Regions from separate parts of the Homo sapiens genome. Here region 1 is linked to region 2. Evidence: fine-mapped expression QTL. Tissue or cell type: whole blood. Region 2 holds a variant in brackets; the other region holds the start of a gene. All regions are shown on one strand. Distances are from middle to middle.

Region 1 (2,764 bases), 80 kb before region 2:
TTTCAGGCTGGCTAGGGACGATTGCTAGAGAATTAGTGTGGTGGTTTGGAGGTAAGAAGACACTCTGGTTTTTGAGTTGCCAGAGTTCTCACACTAGTTCTTTCTCATCTGTGTGGGCTGATGTTCCTTCAATTTTTGAAGTTGATGTGCTTTGGAGAGGTTTTCTGCTTTTATCTTCTTTGATGATCTTGGTTTGATTGTGGTATATGGTGGGTTTGGTTGACTTGCTTCATTTCTGGAAGATTTTAGGGGGCCCAGACTCAGCTCAGCACTCCTGGGCTGCGTGCTCTAACTCTGGGAGGGCTGGTGCTGGGCGCCTGGCTGTGCTATCTGAACCCTCAAGGTTAGGAATCTATTCTGCTGGAGGGGCTGAGTTGTTCCCAGTCTGCTGGCCACAGCACTGTGATGGAAGATGCTAGCCAAAGCACTTGGTCAGGGTGGTGTCAGTGAGATCTGTGCTTACTGATGTATGGCAGCAGCTGCAGCAGCATGGCGGGGTGCACACGTGTTAGCTGGGGAGGGGTTCCAGCAGAAATGGGGAGGCGGTGTTCCTGCATGTGCTCATGCCAGTGGTGGTGGTGGTGCATTGGTAGGGGGGAAAATGGGGGCTGGGGCACTGGCAGCCGTGGGGTTGCTGGTGTTGCACTTGTACTGGCGGTGGTGGCAGCTGGGGTGGGGTGCTGGTGGAGGTGAGGTTGCCAGCATTCATGAGCATGTTATAAAATTTTTAAATTTTTGTCTCAATTTTTTTTAAGTCACAAACATTTTTATTGGAAAGCAATGAGCTGCAGCAAAGTGACACTCAGTGCATGCAGCCAAATGGGTGAGGTGGGGGTACAGGTGGGTGCCAAGAGCTGACCCAAGACTAGAGCTCATGACCTCTGGGGCCTCTGGCTATAAGCCCTTTGGGCTGGAGTGTGCAGGCCCAGCAGAAATACAAAAATAAACTCTGTGGTCTAGCTGTCCCTGCCTGTGGTAGTTCGTTTGGGCAAGGTGGTTACTCTTTGCAGCAGGTCCTGTGCTGTCTAGTCCAGCCACAGCGTGGGCAGCAGAAGCCTATGGGGTTGAGTGGACACCTACAGGCTGGAGCCAAAGGGCCAGGCAGGTGTGGCCTTGGGCAGTGCTGAGACTCTGACAGCACCAGGGTCTGGCCTGCAGCTGGGGAGGCCTCAGGGCCTCTCAGGTGGGCAGGTCCAGGCATTGGTTGAAGCTGGATGAAGCTGGGGCCTGTGCTACTCCTCATCACATACAAATCACTGGGAACCTGTCCTCCTTGGTCTGGTCTCTTCGGCCCCACCCTCACTGCCTCCACCTCTGCTTCCTTTCTCTTCCTCCTCTTCCCCCAGTTCCAGGTCCATCTCGTTGCCTGCCTCTGAGGGTGTGCAGGTGGAGCTGCTAATGGAGCGGTGGCTGAAGAAAACAATTTGCTTGAGCCCTTTGTTGTAGAAGAAGTAGTTGAAGGACCAGAGGGTATCTTCTTCTCTGAAGGCATCTGGGTCCATGTCTGGGTTATAGCTGTGGGTGTCTCATTAAGCCAGGTGGATCTCCTCATCCACTGTGTTCCACAGCTGTGTTCTAGGACCTTGATGTCCCCCCACGCAGCTGAGAACAGACTGCGGTTGACTGCATTCACCACCCACCTGAGGCTGGGCTTCCGGCTGAACCCATGGCTGCGGGCTGTGCTGAGGTCATAGTCAGGCCTGAAAGGACTCGCTGAGCATGACAATCAAGTGGAAGAGGGTCTTGCAATTGCACTTGTCCCTGAGGGGGGCCCTTGTCCTTGCCACCTTGGTTCTTGCTCAGGCTGCTGGGGCTGAGGCCTGAGGTCTGGGATGGGGAGAGAGCCTTCAGTATGTGGGCCGCCCTCCTGTCAGAACAGTGTTTGTCGTCTCCTGCTATCTTACGTGAGTAGCTCTCAATCCTGCTGATAATGTGGGTATCTTTGCTCTCTACAGTTAGCTGTGAGTTGATGGCTTCAAAGCCCAGTTCTCCAATAGCTTCCTGTCTCAGGGAGGGAGCTCCATGCTTGAGAGGGGCCATTGCTGCCTGCCTGGTGGGGCTAAATCAGGCCTGGCTGGGTCATCGGCACCGGTGCATAGGCAGGGCAGGCTCCGCACAGTGTGGGCTCCTCAGCACCAGAGGGTGGCACCGTGGCATCCACCTGGGCCACACTGTATCTGGGGGAAGAAACTCCATGGCAATGTTTCATTATACCTGGCCCTGCTGGCTCATCCAGGTGGTCACTATGACACATCCTTACCACACTGCACATTGCCTGCTTTAGCCACCAACATGCCACCAACCACCACAGATCACCTTGGTCAGCCAGCAACCTCCACCTCCCCCACCAGTCAATGTCTATCAGTCAAAATTCCTAGAACTAAATAAGTATAAAAGAAACTTAACTACTTCAACTTAAAAATAATTTGCTTCTGTCTGCCTATGAAAATGTTAATATTTGTGAAATCTGAGTGAAGGGTATATGGCAATTCTTCAACTATTCTTTCAACTGCTCTGTAAGCCTGAAATTATGTTAAAATAAAAATTCAAAAACAAAAGCCAAAAACCTTGTACCCTTAAGGGTTACTTGAGTTAGTGGTTCACAGCAACAGATACTCAAATCTGGTTTGTGTTACTTCTGAAAATTAAGCTTCATATCTTTTTCTTCATGGCTCTTTCTGGTGTAAAGTACAACTTGAATCTCATGTTAGAAGGTCTATCCCAACAAAGCCCAGACCACTGGACTCTAGAGGCTTCACGCATG
Region 2 (2,764 bases):
AGTGTCAAAGAGTATATACCCCAAAGTAAGCCTGCTCCTGCCCTGTCTCCAGCCCCAGCCCTCTCACCAGAAGCCTCCACTGTCCGCAGCCCCTATGTGTGCTTCCAGAGAGGGTCTGCCCTCCACTTTCTAAGAAACAGAAATAGTAGCAGAGCACAGACGTGGTTACTCAGATACATTCTGGCGCCAGCTCCACGTCAGTATCTAACCAGCATCCTGGTTCTCTTCTCACAGCGGCAGAGGATTCTGCTGCGTTGTTTCTCTGTGTCAGACATTGCAGCCGCTTCCTGTCTCACTGCTGGTCTGGAATTTCAGAGAACCCCTGAGCTGGAGTTCTGAATTGAAACCTGGAGCCTGTCTGGTTCCACATTCACCTTTCACCACCGGCCGTTTCTTGAACACCCGCTGTGTGTCGAGGTATGCCTCCCTGTGCCAGGCTCTGGAAGTGGAGAGGGAGGGAGACAGAGCAGTGGCCCCGGCAGAGCTGGCGCTTGGTAGGAGGCCTGCCCGGCACCCAGACTGCCCTGAGGACGCCATGCCCGGCTCCCACCTTGGTCCACGCGGGGCCCCGCTCTGAAGGGCCATCTTCTGGCATCTTCCTTGGGACCCACATTCAGTCCCCACTTCCTGGGGCACCCTTGCTGAGAACTAATCAATACCCTGCTCTTTCTGGAAACTCCCACAGCGTATGTCGGTTGATCAACGCGCTCATGTAAGCAGCTGTTTGTGTTACTGCTCACTTAATGTATGTCTTCAAGTTTATTCAATTCCACAAACTTAAAGCATTGATTATGTGCCAGGCGATTTACACACATCATTTCATTTACATTCCTGCACCAACCCGATGAGGTAGGTCTTCTAGCTGCATTTTTACAAAAATTTCAAATGTCAGTCACAAGAAATCTGTTATAGTGGACCCCCATATATGCATCACCCAGCTTCCTTGATTATAAGCACGTGGCCTATTTTGTTTTACTTGTGCCCACACGTCTTGCCACTCTGCCTGAGATTATTTTCAACAAATCCCAGACATCATATTATTTCTTCTTCAAATATTTCAGCCTGTACTGGCAAATTATAAGAATGCTTTAAAAAGAACACATGACTTCACAACGATGATCACGTCTAAAAATTAATAATACTT[T/C]CGTAATACTTTCTCAATTATCAAATAGTGTTTATCTTTTCTCGTGTCTAATATATTTTTTAATTGTTTGGATAGTGATCCAAATAAAGCCCATTTTGATGGGCTGATATGTTAATTTAGTCTCTTTTACTGTATAGATTTCTCTTACCATCTTGCTTCTTTCCCTTGCAATTTTTATTTGTTAAAAAATTGGGTCTTTTGTCTTATAGTTTCCCAGAGTTTGGATTTTGCTGGTTTCATCTCTATAATAATACTTTTATTATTTTCCTTATGACTGTCTAGTTGTCTAAATATCACTTATTAAAAAGTCCACCCTTCCCTCTATTGGCTTCAAGTGCTGCCTTTATTAAAACTAAATTTCCAGACACAGTAGAGCTTACTATAGAATTAACCCGTTCATCTGACCCCCTTCTTTTCTGTAAATTAGTAGTTTTATCTTGAGGCTTAATCATATTCAGGTTTTTTGTTTGTTTGCAAGACTACTTCATAGGTGGTGATGTGTACTCCACCAGGAGATGCAGAACGGCTGCTGGTCGCATTTTGTGAAGGTCATAGCCATTTGATTATTGTTATTGCCTAGAGCCATTGTTTTATTATAGATATAAATAAAATTAATAATTCTATTATTTTTCTTTATTAGCTGGAATACATCTATAAAAAGATAATTCCTCTCTTTATTTATTTTTCTTACTGGATATACCTATAGGTCTTATAAGAAAGGCAGGAAAATGCTTTATTTTCTCTCATTATTTACCAGTTTTAAAAATGAGTTGGTTCCTCAGTGGGCTCCAAAGGTGATTAATTAGTTTTTTTTTTTTTTTTTTTCGGTGTTATACTGACATATTTGATGGATTTCAATCTATTGCAGTTAATGTTCTTAATAATATTCTTTTAAAAATTGATGGATCATGCTTTTATTCTATAACTGACTTACTTTAATATTTGAAAACTGTAAATGACATTTTGTCTATTTCCCAAGAGGGGAGCTAACAGGTCTCTATGGATTCACTTGGAAGTGGCTCACAAGTCTTTCTTTAAACTTTAAAACATCTCTAAACTTTTACATTCTTTACTATTAAGGCAAAAAGGCAGTTCAAGTTCAATCAGAATTTCATGTTCAATTGCTTCACATAGTCACAATATTAAAAGCTCTGAATGTGTGACTTAGGTCCAGCGGTTAGAAAGGTATTTTCAGCCTGGCGAGATGTGCTTTGCTGCTGGGCTGCAGCTCATTTGTGCTGTCACCATGGGATTGGCTACTGTAGCGCTCAGAGGACAGCTCTGGTTCCACAGACTCCTGTCCGCCCACGGACTCCTGTCCGCCCACGGGCTGCACACAGGCAATAGGTTTCTGTAACATTGAACTGAACTTTGACATCAACGAAGGTGGGAAAGACTGATTTGAGTGCTGCCCACTTGGAAAAGATACGTGAGAGGGAGAATCCCCGTTTGCATTAGGGTCCCCAGGTGATTTGGAGCGCTGATATTCCTTGCTATGCTGATCATTCCCATGAGAGCTGGAATGACTGGAGCTTAACGAAGAGACAGCCTGGGGTTTCCCAGGGCTGGAAGAGCGCGGCTTGGAGTGCTGTGATCCATGCTGACATTTTTCTCTGGTCT

Evidence for each region. PIP is the estimated chance that this variant, and not a neighbour inherited with it, causes the effect.
Region 1: it holds the start of BFSP2-AS1, and the variant in region 2 is fine-mapped to the expression of BFSP2-AS1 in whole blood (TOPMed, PIP above 0.99).

Annotation. Positions count from the first base shown.
Region 1 is chr3:133,490,042-133,492,805 of GRCh38, reverse strand. It overlaps BFSP2-AS1 (BFSP2 antisense RNA 1), which reads left to right and starts at 1,697. Exons shown (of 4, transcript NR_189064.1): 1 at 1,697-1,904. It also overlaps the pseudogene MAF1P1.
Region 2 is chr3:133,410,386-133,413,149 of GRCh38, reverse strand. The region is part of intron 1 of BFSP2 (beaded filament structural protein 2); the gene reads right to left. Among named protein-coding and RNA genes, the nearest start is that of BFSP2, 12 kb to the right of the region's middle. The variant T/C (reference allele first, on the strand shown) is at 1,145.